5 linked regions of the Homo sapiens genome follow. The protein of the gene in region 4 interacts with the protein of the main gene of each other region in a pairwise test. Each region holds a gene or a part of one and is shown on either strand. Other genes may lie near its edges. The genes, in order: CCDC33, SKAP2, TRIM5, YES1 and SH3GLB2.

Region 1 (3,519 bases), on a different chromosome or scaffold from region 4:
ATGTGTCTAAATGGAGCCTATGAAGCCAGAGGTGGTGAGTGGCTGCCGGCCCAATAAGGAACAGCCCTTTCCCTGAGTAGTTTCCCAGGGCAAGTCACTTAGGAAAGATCACTTCAGACCTAGGACTGGGGAGGGAGGGTCAGCCTGTCTTGTGCATGTGCAGGCAGGAGTGGTGGGAACTCAAAGTTAGAAGACCTGCAGTCTGACGCCAGAGCCCTGGTGAGGGTACTGTGGCTGATGTGTGTGCAGGATGGGGGCGGGGAGAGGCAGGCATCGCCTGCAGATGCTAATGGAAGGGCCACAGCGGTAGTGGAATTATGGAATGTCATTAACCCTCAGCTGTGATCTTCAGAAAAGCCATTAACCCCCAGCCATGGAGGCAGACCTGCTTCCCCTGGGGACAGAGCCTTCATTCCATGGCCCCTCCACGCCCACCGCCTTATTTCCCCTGGGCCCACCCACATCCACCTCTGCCTGCTCTGCCCAGGCATAGTGGCCGCCATCTGGAGGAGTAGCTGCTGGGAGCAGATGCTGGGCTGGGGTCTCTAGGGATCTAGGACCCCTTGGCTCTGGGTCTGGGTCTGCCTCAACCTTGCTGTGTGGCCTTCAAGTCCCTTCTCCTCTTTGGGACCTACTTTTCCCATCATCCCATGGGGATATGCCTCAAACTCCTCACTTTGAAAGCCTGTTGTAAGGTTAAAGGAGACAATGGATGTTTTGCTATTAAGATGTAAGTTCAACTTCACTGAACTCAGCAAATGTTGACTCTGGGGGGCTTCTCCATTCCAGATGCCTGTGGGGTGCTGTAGAGCCAGACTCTGCCCCCGACCCTGTAGCCCACCATCATCCAGGAGGATAGGGGACAGACAGACAGACAGACAGACAGACACACACACACAAACATGTAGAGTCCTAAGCAAGCTGTGGTTGTGGGAGCTGGGGTGTGCGAGGAGAAAGCCATGACTTCTGACCCCATTCCTCAGGGAGGACCTGAAGGACAAGGGCAGTAGGTAAGGAAGAGGAAGGCCATTCCAGACTGCGAGTGCAGCAGAGGTGGAGGCTGGAGGTGGGAAGGGGCAGTGTGGGTGTGGAGAACAGCAAGCTGTCCAGTGGGGCTGCAGAATGCCTGTATGAGCTGGAGCCATAAGCCAGGAGGCTGGAGGGCACAGGGCCTGTGGACCTGGCTGAGAGTGGGATTTGCCTTGTCGTGATAGTAACAGGGGGCCCAGGGGAAGGGCTAGGCAGGGGATGCCCTGGCTGCTCCTCAGAGAATGGATGGCAGGGGCCTGAGGGGAGGCTAGCACTAGGGCAGGGTCTGTGGGGATGGAAGGGGCCCCAGGAGAGCTTGGGGACAGGCCAGCTGTGGGGCTGAGAGAGGAGGGGATGGTGGTGGGCACACATGGCTTCCCGGAGCTCCACTCCAGCTCTGTAGGAGACCAGAACAACAGGAGCAGCCTGTTGGGCAATGGGCCCCTTCCAAGGTGCCGGGGTAGGAGTAACTTACACGGCCCACCCTATGTTGGTTCCAGCAGGCTGGACCAGGTGAAGTCCGACAGGCCATCTACCCCTTAACTCACCAGTTCAGCCTTTGCCATCATCACCAGGCTCCACTGAGGGCCACCTAGCCCACCACCATGCCCCTCCTTGCCTCATCACCAGCAGATGGCCCTTGGGTTCGGGTGGCTCCGCCTCCATAACCTTCCACATTTATACCAGCAAGGCAGAGCCACACCCCTCCTTAGTGATTGGCTCAGGGAAGTGCATGTAACCCAATCCTGGCTAATCAGACAGGAAGGAGGTCTGCTGAGGGATGGCTGGGTAAGGTTGGTTTCCAGTTGCTCTTTAAAACCACCTACAAGAAGAGAGGGTGCTGCTGGGTGCGGTGCCTCAGGCCTGTAATTCCAGCACTTTGGGAGGCCAAGGTGGGCGTATCGCCAGAGGTCGGGAGTTCAAGATCAGCCTGGTTAACATGGTTGAACCCTATCTCTACTAAATATACAAAATTAGCTGGGCATGGTGGCGCTCGCCTGTAATCCCAGATACTCGGGAGGCTGAGGCAGGAGAATTGCTTGAACCCAGGAGGCAGAGGTTGCAGTGTGAGCCAGGATTGCGCCACTGCACTCCAGCCTGGGGGACAGAGACTTGGTCGCAAAAAAAAAAAGAGAGGCTGCCTCTTATCTGCTGGTCTTTCATTCTATTTGGATGAAGTGCCCCCATGAGCCGTTAGCCAGCTGAAGATGGTAATTCGGGGTGTTGGAAAGATCCTGAGACCTCGAGGATGCTTCTGAGCCTGAGCATCCACCAATTCTGGCAGCATTCTATGTCGTGAGTTGATGTGGTGTGTGACAATAAATATCCTTAGTATTTAAGCCGATCCAAGTTGGGGTTTCTGTTACTTGGAGCCAGATGTGAAAAGGGCAGTGGTGAGGCTGGCCTCAGAGGGGACACTGGCACTAGGGGAGGTACAGCTCTGTTAAGAGTGGAACCCATTTACCTTGGACCCTGGGCCTGGACACTTTGCAAAGATTATCCTTTGAGTTCTCCTAACAGATTGGAATCAATGAGTCTGGAGAAAGGAGCAGCTTACCAAAGGTCATGCAGCCAGTAAGTTACAGAGCTGGGGTCAAACCCAGGTCAAACAGTGCTTTTGCACAGTGACAGTTGGTGAGAAATCACAGCCCCCCAAGATGTCAGAGAGGGCAGGCCCTAAAATTACCAAGTCCAATCCCACCCCCTCAAGTGTAGAGATGAGGGGACTGACGCTCAAAGGGAACAGGGCAGGGGTCTGTGTGAAGACTGAGCTCACGCTGCTGACTGGTGCCCCTCCAGGTATGGCTCTGCCCGGGCAATCCCCACCCCTCCTTACCACAGCAGCCTGCTCCTGTTCTCTCACTGCTGCACCTGGGCACCTCTGTGCCAGCTGCCAGCAAATTCCCAACCTGGCCCAGCTGCCATGGGGTTGGGTGATGTTCAACAGGTGTCCTGCCATTGCTGGACCGGGTCCCACACATGCAAAAGGCACTGGGAACAAGTCTCTGTAGTGAGTGGCACCTCTCCTACCCAGACTAGTTAGGCAGCAAAGGCAGCCAGAGAAAGCCTGGGGGTGGGAGGGGGCACACTCATTAAAGCAGGCAGTGCCTCTTGCCCCTTGGGACAGCCTGCTGATTGGTTCTTAATTTTCTGGGCAAATGCAGGGCCATGTGTGAGGTAACTCTAGGGAAATCAGGCAAAGGATTGGTTTGGGTTTGAAGCCTCTGTCCCCAGGGTCCCCCTTTGTCCCACTCCTCCCCACCACCATCACTCTACCCCATGTCTGAGCCTTCTTCAAATGTCTTTGCCTTTAAATGAAGCCTGGGCTCCAAAGGGGTGTCTTGTTCTATTTTTGCTATGCCAGACATAAGCACTGGTGGGCAGACAATAGGAGGGACCTCCAAAAATCCCTCTGTCCCCCAAGGCCCCTAGGAATGTTGGGACCATCGTGTAGGGCAAGCTGGCAGTGAAGCGCAGATCATGAGAAGA
Region 2 (3,519 bases), on a different chromosome or scaffold from region 4:
TCAACAGCATGGCTAACAAAGTTTTCTGACAGGGACAGTCAAAAAGGTATCTGACTATACAGTCTTGAGATAATTGATCCATCTGGGTCTCATTTTCTCATCTGTTATAAAAAGAAGGGGAGGAGCTAACCTAGATTATTTCTGTTATCTCTTTCAGTTTTAAAATTCAGCTAAGAAAGCTAAGAAAAGCAAAATGAAATATAAATAGAAAGGCCTAAAGGGACTACAAGAGAGATAAGCAGAATGGTAATGAAAAGACTGTCTGCTTTTCATTTCTCATATTATAAAACCACCTCCATATTTCATTTCCATTAAATATTGGTGTTGAAAGAGTGAGACCATATGGTCAACTCCCAATTATCATAGCCAATGGAGAGGAACACTGAAATGAATAATAGACAATGGCAGACAAAACTCCAGGCTTGATCTGAACCATGGTGCATGCCAGTTTGGGCATAGGAGAACCTGCTGCTCAGCCCATTGAGATACTGGTGAGAAATCCCACCTTTGAGAATACAGTCATGGCCTGCAGCTTTCCTTTGAGAGGCAGGAAACAGCTCCTGAATCATTTACAAATAACCAAGGTTGACAACTAAAAACCTAACCTAATGTTTTCTTATTAAAAATTATTTAAAGCTAAGAGCTATATTTTGTGGTTTGGATAATGTCATCCAGATTTTCTTACAATCTTTAAACTCTTTAATCACCTAAAACGAATACTGCCTCCACATGTATACTACAAACATGTTCTATCTAAGGATGAAATTATTTTTACATTTTTCATTAGAACCTTCAGTTTACCTTTTCTGCGTTTTTCAAGGTAGCCAGCCTTTAGAACAAAAGGAAGGTCTTGTGCTGCAATTGGAGGAAACTGGGCTCCTATGAGAAGTTGGGGAGAGAAAAAAAAAAGCAGTGGGTAATCCATTTCAGAATAAACAAGTGCCAGATCTCATTAGATTCAGTGTGCTTTTAATTACTGAAATTGTTTAAATCTAAGTCTATTAGCTTTGTTTCAGATCCATTCCCTAGATTAATCCCCTCTATTCCTCCTAAAAGTCTCAAAAGTAAAAAAAAAAAAAAAAAAAAAAAAGTTCTGTACTCCTATATGTTATTATAGCCTCCCAAAATACAGGACTGAGAAACTATTATAAATAAATGCAATAAATCCCTGAAAGAGAGGTTAAGAATTTCAAATAAATCATAGCTTCGTTATATTTATATTGAATTAACTCTTTAAAAATTTCAATACATATTGACTCTTTCCTGCATAATCCCTATTCCTACCAAGTAAAACATAAAATGCTTTTCCGAATCAAATGCTGAAACTTGTTTCTCTGAGCCCACAGCAAATATTCTCTGTGTTTGTATTCAGAGAAATGTTATGGACATTCCACTGAGTGAGTATGCTTTAGGTTTTTATAGGGCATTTAAGAGTCTAAAACTAGACAGATCTGATAAAACTATTATAAACAAATACTGGATCCCTAAAAAAAGTTTTTAAATCAAGCAAAAGTTAAGTTGATTAGAAATTGTATATTCACGGTCATGGATTATAGGTTACTCAATTTTACAAGTGTTCAATATTTTTATAAACTTCATTAGAAATATAATAGTTATCTGCCGGGCGCAGTGGCTCACGCTTGTAATCCCAGCACTTTTGGAGGCCGAGGCGGGTGGATCACTTGAGGACAGGAGTTCGAGACCAGCCTGGCCAACACAGTGAAACCTGGTCTCTACTAAAACTACAAAAGAAATTAGCCAGGCATGGTGGCGGGTGCCTGTAATCCCAGCTACTTGGGAGCTGACGCAGGAGAATCACTCGAACCCAGGAGGCAGAGGTTGCAGTGAGCCAAGATCACGCCATTGCAATCCAGCCTGGGAAAAAAAAGAGAAAAAAACGAAAACAGAAAAGAAAAGAAATATAATAGTTATCCTCAGCATTTTACTAGAACTCTAGCAAGTGAAAACAACCAATCAAAAGAAAGTTTGTATGGAATACATCCAGTGGAAATAGTTTCAGTACAACTTAGGATAGAAAATGTGTTTGAGTACAAACATGTAATTAGAATGAATAAGATCTAGTATTTGATAGCACAACAGAGTGACTATAGTCAACAATAATTTATTGTACATTTAAAAATAACTAAGTGGCCGGGTGCAATGGCTCATGCCTACAATCCCAGCACTTTGGGAGGCTAAGGAAGGAGGGTCGCTTGAGCCCAGGAGTTTGACACCAGCTTGGGTAACACAGTGAGACCCCCATCTCTACGAAAAATTTAAAAATAACTGGGTGTAGTGGTATACGCGCCTGCAGTCCCAGCCAGTGGAGGAGGAGGGTAGAGGTGGGGGGAAGGGGGTCTGAGGTGGGAGGATCCCCCAAGAGGTCAAGGCTGCAGTGAGCCATGATTGTGCCACTGCGCTCCAGCCTGGGTAATAGAGTGAGACCCTGTCTCTAAATAAATAAATAAATAAATAAATAAATAAATAAATAAATTAATAAAATGAAATAACTAAACAAATATAATTGGATTCTTTGTAACAGAGAAAGAATAAATGGTTGAGGTGATGGATACCTCATTTATCCTGATGTGATTATCATGCATTGTATGCCTGTATCAAAACATACAATATGCCCATAAATTTGCCTATTGTGTACCCACAAAAATTAAAAATTAAAAAAAAGAATGGGTTTGATAGGAAGTTTATTATTTACAAACTCATCACCTAATTTTACCAGTTTTTTTTTTTAATACCATGGGGATCACAGTAGTGATAAAGTCATGGATATTTTTTCTTAAGAAATAAAGCTTAAAATTAGAGCACTAATTTCAGCTCCTTGGTGGATCAACTTCACCCAGTAAACACCACACAGTATCATTAAAACATATTTAAAATAGAGCCCTGATTTTGAAATGTATATGAAATTTTAGGGAAAGTCAGTGTACATATTTTAATAGCTGTTCAATAAATGTATCCAGTTTTTTTCAAAATAAACTTGGTACATATAAAGGTATAAATTATTTATTATAGGATTTTGTACATAAAACAAAAATTACAAACAGAAATCTTATCTCTGTAAACAAGTCCTGGTGAACCACTAATCTAAAGTGGATAATTGTGGAATGATCTGGTCTCATTAAGGGGTAGTCCCACAACCCTCTCACTTCCATTGGGCATAATAAATGCTCTTTACATAAGGAATGGATGCTCACAAAATCTTAAGAAAAGTTAAATTATTCTGAAAAGAAATGGGTACCTTTAGCATAGCTTTCAACTCTAAAATGTTACTGGTCAAAAAGGAGACAGAGAGAGATGGGAAGAAGGGAGAGGGGAGAGGAAGTGGGGGAAAAGGAAAAGGAGAAGGGAAATTAGAATTTACTAGCGTTCAATATACACATAGCCTGAGTCTTTTGCTTTAAGAAAAGTGTTGACTAAATTTCCACCTGATACATCACAATAAAATTTGATGTCATAAGCAATACTTGTTCTGAATTCTAAATTCATGTTTCTAATATAAAA
Region 3 (3,519 bases), on a different chromosome or scaffold from region 4:
CTTTTCCTATTTCTTTTCCTTCATGACATTTTAAAACAATGACCTTGAATGGGTATATTGAGGTTCATCCTGCATCAAAATGGGTTACCTGGATGTAGCTTACCTTTCACACAGCTATGCAGGACACTCATGCCTGCCTGTATTACTTCTCAGCCCAAGCTCAAACTCCCTGCCAAAAGTTGAACACTGAGGACAGAATCATGAGCCATTGCCAAATGTCTTCCCCAAGTAGAGTCACGGACTCAAAAAGTAGCACAAAAATAGAATGCAGGATTCACTAGCCATCCTCACCAGAGAGATCCTTCATGTAAAGAGCTCCCTACTGTGTTCACTGTGACATATTCACTCCTCAGCCACCACACCCCATCAGGGAAAGGATGAAGAGGACTAATCAAATGACTTCTGGACTTATCAAATGTCAGGGAATAAAGAGGAAGAAAGCTCCTTCCCCTGGTCCTGCCCAGATTTCTAGCTAACTCCTTCGGGAACCACATCCTCTTGCCTTCCAGGAAGCTTTCTCTTCTCTGATGTCAGCTTCTAACTCTTCAGCTTCCTGCTGCTTCTGCCTCAGCATCTCCAGAGCTGCCTGGAGCTTCACCTGTGAGAAAGGAATCACACCATAGTCAAGCTATGAGGTTTTCCAGCACCTAGATAGAGTATAAACATGAAATAAATCAGGTTGATCTCAGAAGAAACAAATTTGCAGAAACTGTGAGAATGGCAATGAGAATCCATGACTTGGAAGAAAACTTACATTGGTGAATGTGCTCCCTACATCTCAGGTAATAGACCTCCCCATCTCCTCACCATGAGTAGACTGATTCTTTTTGTCCTAGAAGAAAAAACTAATCCTGCAGCAAGGAAAAAACTTACATCTCAACCCACTCCTGTTACTCTCCTGCTGAAAGGGGTAATCAGAGCTTTTCTTGGACACCAAATCTCTACCCATCTAACCCAAGGTACAAAATATTTACTCCCGGCCAGGAATATATACTCTAGGATTATTCTCCTGTAATTGGGTGAAATGCAAAAAACCATCCTTAAAGCCTCAGAAGTTAAGCATAGCATGAAAAAAATAATCCCGGGTCTCAGGTCTATCATGACAAGGCAGTTAATGTCAAAGGCAAAGTGAAAATTTTCCATCTGGTCCCATTTTCTGCCCTCTCTTCCTTCCATCCCAGTCTCTTACTTGGTACTCCCGGGCAACCTCCTCTGTGAGGAACGTGTGGTGACCACGGTGCTCCTGAGACCGCTCACAAAGCCAGCAAATGACCTTCCCGTCCTCCTGACAGAAGAGTAGAAGTTTCTCTCCATGGCGTGCACAATGATCAACTTTCTGCCCCTCTGGGCTCAACTTGACCTCCCTGAGCTTCTCCACTATGTTGGCTACATGCCGATTAGGCCGTATGTTCTCAGGCTGGTAACTGATCCGGCACACAGGGCAGCTACTCTCTCCTTTGTCTAGCATGGACTTCTTGTGGTTTGCAGTGAGGCATGCTTGGCAGAAGCTGTGGCCGCAGTCCAGGCTCAGGGGTTGTGTCAGGAGTTCCAGGCAGATGGGGCAGGTCACCTCCTCCTTTACATTAACCAGGATTCCAGAAGCCATAGTAGCTATTCCACTGCTCCTGCCTGTCCTGGCTGCTGAGGTTCCTCTTGTTCACAGATCCCTGCATGATTGGGAAGGTTAAAATGGGACCAAGTAAGAAAGGTAGAAATAGAAAGGATATTGATTGTGCACAATTAGAAAATGGGCAAGATGAAAATAATTAAGGACAAAAAAAGGGGAGAAATAAGAAAAGGTGTTTGGTTACCTGGTAATAAGGGCTTTTCATAATCACCTTAAATACTTTACTGCCAGTTCATGTCATATGACAAATTCTGTTCTTATCTGTGCATTGGTTATCATTTTTCTTTACTTTCAATGAATAGAAAACAGACTGAGGTCTTTTCTACCAAGATCTTTGTGTGACCCATCATCTCTCCTGGCTTTTCTTTCCCACGCCAAAACACATCCTCAGTATTAAAATCACCAAACAGCTTATGCCTCAGGGCTTTCACATTTGCTCTTCTCTCAGCATGAAATGTTTCTCTGATGTTAGTACGATTTTATTAAATTCTCTCCTTACATGTTATATTATCAAAAATACCTGCTCTGACTACCTTATGTGCAGTGTAACAAATCTCACCATGCACTGTACGTTTGCAATGATTGCTCTTATTATCAGCAGAGTGAATGACTGTTTCATCAAATGTATAAATAGACATAATAAGTGATTTACAAAAATTATTTATCTTCAGTATGGTGACCTGAGATGACCTCGTATTCAGGGTCCTCTTTCACTGGCCTCTTTGCTACTCTTTTGGTTAATCAATGACAAATGGAGATAACAGCATATATCCAATTAATACCCAGAGCAATTGGGGTGTGGAAGTAGAGGAATCCACAACAGCTGGGAGGTTCTGAGGAGTCTCATCCTGAAAGTTTGCCAAGGACATTTATTGGAGCCTAAAGGTGTAGACATGGTGTAGAGGGTGATGATAGAGAAATACTCAGTGGACCACACATGTTGGATACTTGAAAACTAGAAGCACAGAGGCAGTGGATATCAGTCTTGAGAGAGAAGTCTCAAAATATTAGATGAGATGATTCTGTTCCCGGAACAAACGGAGGGTCGGCTGCTGCTTCTTGCGGCCCAATAACGAGATGCAGATTTACTGGGAAAGAAGCGAATTTTTATTTCTGCGTACAGGGAGAAGGCCTAGAAAATATCTCCAGACCAACTCAAAATTACAAAGTTTTCCAGAGCTTATATACCTTCTAAGCTATACGTCTACGTATAGGTGTGCATTATTCATCTAAAAACATAAGTGATTAACTTCTTCAAATCTATAACTAAGGTCTGAGTTTTAAGACCTTCCTCTGGTGCCTCAGTAAATTTACCTAATCTAGATGGGTCCGGGTGCTGGGGTGATTACCCTTATCTTGTCTCTCCTGCTAAATCATTAAGGTTTGCGGAGTTCCTTCAGACCCTCAATAAACTTGTTTGTGGAGGCCTGGGAGTTCCTTCAGACCCCCATAAAACTTGTTTAATCCTAAACAGGTCCTAATCGATTCCTTCGTTATCTTGTCATGCTTCAAGGCCCAGGAAAGGCCTGGGCAAAACTCTCAGTGGGCTTCTGTTACATTCCAGCCTTTGTATAAGGGCACTGGCTCTATCAGCTTTTAATATTTTTTTTTCTTTTTTGAGACGGAGTCTTGCTCTGTCGCCCAGGCTGGAGTGCAATGGCACAATCTCGGCTCACCACAACCTCTGCCTCCCAGGTTCCAGTGACTCCTCTGCCCCAGCCTCCCGAGCAGCTGGGACCACAGGCACGCACCACCACACCCGGCTAATTTTTGTATTTTTGGTACAGATGGGGTTTCACCATATTGGCCAGTCTGGTCTCCAACTCCTGACCTTGTGATCCACCTGCCTCGGCCTCCTAAAGTGCTGGGATTACAGGCGTGAGCCACCGTGC
Region 4 (3,519 bases):
TGTGATTAATATTTTACAGATAAGGATACTTTAAAAATAATAGCAGCCAGACATTTGGAAGGAGCAGAGAAGGCAATATGGTGTTATAAGGAAAGGACTGGAAGGTAGAGCACTAACACTATCTAGATTTTAGTTTCATTTCTGACAGTGAAGAGCTGTTTAGCCTTGGTCGATTCAGTAAACTCCCTAGGCGTTAGTTTTGCAATTTGAAACAAAAGGTAGTTGGGCCTCATGGTTTCTAATAGTTTCTCAGCTTTATATATAAATGTGTGCTCTGCCGCAGTTGAAGTTGTTACAATATAGTCATGCTCTGCCTAAGGAAGTTTCAATGATGGTGATCCTGTAAGATTATAGTAGAGCTGCCCTATATAGGTGTACCATTTTTTATTTTTTTATACTGTGTAATTACTGTATCTCTTCTACATTTAGTTATGTTTAAATACACAAATACTGTTACAGTTGCCTGCAGTATTCTGTACAGTTGTGTGCTGTACAGGTTTGTAGCCTGAGAGAAATAGGCCATACTATATGGCCCAAGGTTGTAGTCAGCTATACCACGTAGGTTTGTGTAAGTACACTCTAGAGTGTTCACATAATGTCAGAATTGCCTAATGAGGCATTTCTCAGAATATATGTTAAGTGATGCATGACCGTATTGATAAAATTTTAAGGAAATGTTTGAGTCTAAAATTTGGAATCACATTAGATATAAGTAAAGATTATAAAAAACTGACCCATGGACTTGACACGGAACTTTCTCAAGCAAATTGCAGTTCTACTAATTAAGCAAACATTTATACTACTATGCTAGGTTTTTGGTTTGTGTTTTTTTTTTTTGAGTCAGAGTCTCACTCTGTCGCCCAGGCTGGAGTGCAGTGGCTTGATCTCAGCTCACTACAACCTCAGCCTCCTGGGTTCAAGTGATTCTCCTGCCTCAGCCTCCCAAGTAGCTGGGATTACAGGCGTGTGCCACCACACCCGGCTAATTTTTGTGTTTTTAGTAGAGAATGGGATTTCTCCATGTTGGTCAGGCTGGTCTCCAACTCCCTATCTCAGGTGATCCGCCCGCCTTGGCCTCCCAAAGTGCCAGGCTTACAGGTGTGAGCCACCTCAGCTGGCCTTTTTTTTTTTTTTTTTTTTTGAGACTCAGTCTCACTCTATTGCCCAGGCTGGAGTGCAGTGGTGCAATCTCGGCTCACTGCAACCTCTGCCTCCCGGGTTCAAGCAATTCTCCCTGCCTCAGCCTCCTCAGTAGCTGGGATTACAGGTGTGTGCCACCACACCCAGCTAATTTTCTTATTTTTAGTAGAGATGGGGGTTTCACCATGTTGGCCAGGCTGGTCTCGAACTCCTGACCTCAGGTGATCTGCCTGCCTTGGCCTCCCAAAGTATTGGGATTACAGGCGTGAGCCACTGTGCCTAGCCCAGATTTTTTCGTAATAAAATTAGAAAAATGACTTAATTATTCTGTTGAAGTGGATAGTTATGATGTCAGTTAACAAGTAATCGTGGCTATTTGAATAAAAACTTTGCAACATTATATGAGAAAAATAGCCACTATCATCAAAATTTACATTTAATTTTTTTAATTGACAAAGGTATGGACAACTTGTTCTGGATATTTGTCTTTATACACATACAGTTAATATTTAGAACAAGACAAGCATGGCATTGGAAAATGGTTAGCCTTTTAAGGTTTGTAAAATAGATTTTCTAAAACAAAGAAACTAAAATTACAGTGTTCTGAAAGTTTGTAAGTTGATGTTTTGAAAATTAGAATCTGTTTTTCCAGGAAGTCTTTTCTGTAACATAAGCCTTTTGGCCTGATTTCTAGGCAGCCCGTTGGAGTCTTATAAAAGCCTCACAAATAGGTAAAATAATACTTTGGTGGTAAAATATTTTCTGACTGATTATCAGTTTTTGCCTGGTTTTTGTTAACTGCTGAGCTCTTTGAACAAATAAAATATTTGGCCTACAAGTGCTCTGATTATGAGGTGGGTGAACCTGTAGCCTTGCCAGTCACCCTCCTTTCCCACCTTACCAGCTCCTCACTATTTAAAAATCACTGTTTTGAGTTCCCTGTTAGGAGACTCAGATTCTCCCAATAAGGCATTGCTATTAAGCTTAATTTAAGTACAGAAACTTCCCTAGGTTTCCCCACCTGCTTGCTAGTGGCAGTGAAACCTGCCTCATACTCTAACCCTATAGGACAGTATGAGGTATAGAAAAGCTTCAAAAGATTGGGGGTAATAAACAAAAATAGTAGAAAAGGGTTTGGGAAAATGAGGAGTGTTACAATATGGAGTTTGTAACTTCTTTACCTTCTCTGTGCTTTTTTTATTTCCCACCCATTCACCTCACTTTGGCATTGGGTAGGGAAAGAAGAAAGCCTGTCCTATGATAGGTGCTATGCCATACTTTTATATGCATTATCACATTTGACTTGAATCTTTGAAATGTGTTTCCAAAATACACAGAAAAATTAGGAATGAGATGGGTATTTATTTTTTGTTTTTGAGACGGAGTCTCACTCTGACACCCAGGCTGGAATGAAGTGGCAAAACCTTGGCTCACTGCAACTTCTGCCTCCCAGGTTCAAGTGATCCTCCCACCTTGGTCTCTGAGTAGCTGCTGGGACCACAGTTGTGAGCCACCATGCCCAGCTAATTTTTTTTTTAATTTTTAAAATTCAAAATTTCTCACCATGTTGCTCAGACTGATCTTAAACCCCCTAGGCTCAAGGGATCCTCCCGCCTCGGCCTCCCAAAGTGCTGGGAAAACAGGTGTGAGCCACCATGCCCAGCCTGTTTTTTATTTTTATTTTTTTTTAGAATAGAGACAGGGTTTCACCTTGTTGCCCAGGCTGTCTCGAACTCCTGGGCTCAAGCGATCCACTTGCCTCAACCTCCCGAAGTGCTAGGATTATAGGTGTGAGCCACTGTGCTGGGCCCCTTGAGGTAGGTATTTATTACAGATAAAGAAACTGAGAATCAGAAAGTATATATAATTTGCTAAGGTCACACAACCGGCAGAACTGGGATTTAAACCTAGGGCTGACTACAAGCCTGTTCCATATGCCATAACTTTCTTAGGAATGAGGAGCAATGATGGAAAGGGAGATTTCTTGTCTTTTTTCTTCTTCATTAAATAGTACATTTGAATTGCTGGCAGAGAATGTTCAATTAATACTTTTTTTTTTTTTTTTTGAGATGGAGTTTCACTCTTGTTGCCCAGGCTGGGGTGCAATAGTGTGGTCTCCGCTCACTGCAACCTCTGCCTCCCAGGTTCAAGCGATTCTTCTGCCTCAGCCTCCTGAGTAGCTGGGATTACAAGCGTGCACCACCTTGCCTGGCTAATTTTTTGTATTTTTAGTCAGGCTGGTCTGGAACTCCCGACCTCAGGTGATCCACCTGCCTTGGCCTCCCAGAGTGCTGGGATTACAGGCATGAGCCACCACGCCTGGCAATACTTTCTAATTATTTTATTTTCTTTCTTTTTTAAGAGAGATGGTCTTGCTGT
Region 5 (3,519 bases), on a different chromosome or scaffold from region 4:
GCCGTGTGGATAAAATCCCTCTCCGCGGCTCCCAGTTGCTTTTCAGCTTCTGCCACCTTGATCAGTGTCTTCCCTGAGAAAACAGAGTTGAAGCGTGAGGAAGAAGGTCAGGCTCAGGCTACTCTGATCTACAGGAGAGGGCTCAGGAAGAGCTTGCTGAAGAGCAAGGGCCGGGGTGCTCAGTGCAGAATGCTTTGCCTGGGAAAAAGCAGAAGCAACCTACACTACACCATCAACTGGGAACTAACAAATAAACAATGGGACAGCCAAAATATGGAACACAATGCAGCCATTATAAAGATCGGGGTTAGACTTCCAGAATGTCAGAGAAAGGAGCTCAACAAATCCCCTCCCAAAAAAAGTAACAATAAAACTGGACACCACGCCAGGTGCGGTGGCTCACACCTATAATCCTAGCACTCTGGGAGGCCGAGACGGGAGGATCACTTGAGCTCGGCAGTTCCAGACCACCCTGGGCAACATAGGGAGACCTTATCTCTTTGAAAATAAAACAAATTGAAAGAAAACTGGACACAATTGTCAAAAACATCCATTTCTGGACTCTGCAAATTGACCAAGGCAAAAAACAAATTGAAAAGCATTTAATCAAGAAAAACTACTGGGCTGGATGCTGTGGCTCACACCTGTAATCTCAGCACTTTGGAAAACCAAGGTGGGCAGACTGCTTGAACCCAGCTGTTCAAGACCAGCCCGGGCAACATGGCAAAACCTTGTCTTTATAAAAAATAAATAGAAAATCATAAGAAAAATGAGCAGCGCCTCAGCACCTACGGGGCACTGTCAAGTGAACCAACATATGACTAACAAGAGTCCCAGAAGAGGAGGAGAAAATAAGGCAGAAAAAATATGTGAAGAAACAATAAGAGGCTGGGCGCGCTGGCTCACACCTGTAATCCCAATACTCTGGGAGGCCCAGGCGGAAGGATCATTTGAACCCAGGAGTTTGAGGCTATAGTAGTAAGCTATGATTGCACCACTGCACTCCAGTCTGGGTGACACAGCAAGATCCTGTCTTTAAAAAAAAGAAAAGAAAAGAAAAAACATGGTTTGATTCATCACATACAAGAGAGCTAAAATAAGATGAATTGTCTTCTCATTAGAAACAATAGAAGCCAGACAGCAGTAAGATAATATATTCAAAGTAAAGAAAAAATTGTTCATCCAGGAATTCTATATATAGCAAAACAATCCTTCAAAAGTGAAGGCAAGGCCGGGCGCAGTGGCTCACGCCTGTAATTCTAGCACTTTGGGAGGCTAAAGTGGGTGGGTCACTTGAGGTCAGGAGTTCGAGACCAACCTGGACAACATGGCAAAACCTCGTCTCTACTAAAAATACAAAAATTAGCTGGGTGTGGTGGTGTGCATCTGTAATTCCAGCTACTTGGGAGACTGAGGCAGGAGAATTGCTTGAACCCAGGAGGCAGAGGTTGCAGTGAGCCAACGTCACACCACTGTACTCCAGCCTGGGCAACAAGAGCAAGACTGTCTTTAAAAAAAAAAAAAAAAAAAAAAAAAAAAAAAGATACGGCCGGGTGCGGTGGCTCACACCTGTAATCCCAGCACTTTGGAAGGCTGAGGCAGGCGGATCATGAGGTCAGGAGTTCAAGACCAGCCTAACCAACTTGGTGAAACCTGTCTCTACTAAAAATACAAAAATTAGCCAGGCGTGGTGGCAAGCACCTGTAATCCCAGCTACTCAGGAGGCTGAGGTAGGATAATCGCTTGAAACCGGGAGGTGGAGGTCGCAGTGAACCAAGATCGCACCACTGCACTCCCGCCTGGGTGACAGAAAAAAAAAAAAATCCAAAGATACACTTTAAATTTAAAGACATGAATGGGCTGAAAAAAGTACACCATGTATGCAGTAACCACGAGAGAGTTAACGTGGCTATACTACTACCAGACAAAATAGACTTTAACACAAAATAGTACTAGAGACAAAGAATAGTATTTTATAATGAAAGAGTCAATTCATCAGGAAGATGCACAAATATAAACATACAGACCTAAGACAGTTCCAAAATACATAAGGCAAACACTGACAAAGAGAGAAATAAGATAATTCAACAGTAATAGTTGGAAACTTGAATACTCTGCTCTTTTTTTTTTTTTTTTTTTTTGGTCTCACTCTGTCTCCCAGGCTGGAGTGCAGTGGCGCGCTCTTGGCTCGCTGCAACCTACGCCTCCCGGGTTCCAGCAATTCTCCTGCCTCAGCCTCCCAAGTAGCTGGGACTATAGGCGCGCACCAGCATGCCCAGCTAATTTTTTTGTATTTTTAGTAGAGACAGGATTTCACCATGTTGGCCAGGCTGGTCTTGAACTCCTGACCTCAGGTGATCCAACCACTTTGACCTCCCAAAGTGGCGGGATTACAGGTGTGAGCCACCATGCCCAGCCTCAATAGTCTACTCTTGATAATGAATAGGACAAGACAAAATCAGCAAGGACATACAAGCCTTGAACACTATTAACCGATGTGGCCTCGCTGACACCTATACAGCACTGCACCCTCAACAGCATAATATCACATCTTCTCAAGTGAACCTAGGACATTCCCCAGATAGACCATATACTAGGTCATGAAACAAGTCTCAATAAATTTAAAAGGATTAAAACAATAAAAATATGAGGCTGGGTGTGCTGGCTCATGCCTGTAATCCCAGCACTTTGGGAGGCTAAGGCAGGCGGATCACTTGAGATCAGGAGTTTGAGACCAGCCTGGCCAACATGGTGAGACCCCCATCTCTATTAAAAATACAAAAAATACGCCGGGTGTGATGGCTCACACCTGTAATCCCAGCACTCTGGGAGGCCAAGGTGGGTGGATCACGAGGTCAGGAGATCGACTATCCTGGCTAACACGGTGAAATCCCGTCTCCACTGAAAAAAAAAAAAATTAGCCTGGCATGGTGGCAGGTGCCTGTAGTCCCAGCTACTTGGGAGGCTGAGGCAGGAGAATGGCATGAACACGAGAGGCGGAGGTTGCAGTGAGCCGAGATCGTGCCACTGCACTCCAGCCTGGGCGACAGAGCGAGATTCCGTCTCAAACAAAAAAAAAAAAAAAAAAAATTAGCTGGGTGTGATTATAGGTGCGTGATGGTGCGTGCCTGTAATCTCAGCTACTCAGAAGGCTGAGAGGCTGAGGTGGAGGATCCCTTGAACCTGGGAAGTGGAGCTTGCAGTGAGCCCAGATGGCACCATTGCACTCCAGCCTGGGCGACAGAGCGAGACTCCATCTCAAAATAATAATAATACTAACATAGCACGACATGTTCATACATTCTCTGATCGCAGTGGAATTAAGTTAAAAGCAACAATAGAAGAAAACCCAGAAAATCCACAAATATCTGAAAATGAAACAACACACTACTGACAGGAATAAAAAAATCATACAGCTACTTTGGAAAACAGTTTGGCAACTTCTTAAAAAGTTAAATTAAATTGGCTGGGCGCAGTGGCTCACGCCTGTAATCCCAGCACTTTGGGAGGCCAAGGCGG

Evidence for each region.
Region 1: the proteins of YES1 (region 4) and CCDC33 interact in a two-hybrid assay, tested with the Homo sapiens proteins (one large-scale study listed by BioGRID).
Region 2: the proteins of YES1 (region 4) and SKAP2 interact in a protein complementation assay, tested with the Homo sapiens proteins (one study listed by BioGRID).
Region 3: the proteins of YES1 (region 4) and TRIM5 interact in binary tests that used the Homo sapiens proteins (3 or more experiments, as listed by UniProt).
Region 5: the proteins of YES1 (region 4) and SH3GLB2 interact in binary tests that used the Homo sapiens proteins (3 or more experiments, as listed by UniProt).

Annotation. Positions count from the first base shown.
Region 1 is NC_000015.10:74,274,321-74,277,839, reverse strand, and holds part of CCDC33 (coiled-coil domain-containing protein 33), read right to left. Parts: intron 1-3,519.
Region 2 is NC_000007.14:26,739,086-26,742,604, forward strand, and holds part of SKAP2 (src kinase-associated phosphoprotein 2), read right to left. Parts: intron 3,287-3,519; exon of another isoform or gene 3,257-3,286; intron 880-3,256; coding exon 802-879; intron 1-801. UniProt on the Homo sapiens protein: May be involved in B-cell and macrophage adhesion processes. In B-cells, may act by coupling the B-cell receptor (BCR) to integrin activation. May play a role in src signaling pathway.
Region 3 is NC_000011.10:5,678,572-5,682,090, forward strand, and holds part of TRIM5 (tripartite motif-containing protein 5), read right to left. Parts: intron 1,668-3,519; 5' UTR 1,607-1,667; coding exon 1,190-1,606; intron 599-1,189; coding exon 503-598; intron 1-502.
Region 4 is NC_000018.10:802,232-805,750, reverse strand, and holds part of YES1 (tyrosine-protein kinase Yes), read left to right. Parts: intron 1-3,519. UniProt on the Homo sapiens protein: Non-receptor protein tyrosine kinase that is involved in the regulation of cell growth and survival, apoptosis, cell-cell adhesion, cytoskeleton remodeling, and differentiation.
Region 5 is NC_000009.12:129,014,832-129,018,350, forward strand, and holds part of SH3GLB2 (endophilin-B2), read right to left. Parts: intron 1,029-3,519; exon of another isoform or gene 909-1,028; intron 74-908; coding exon 1-73.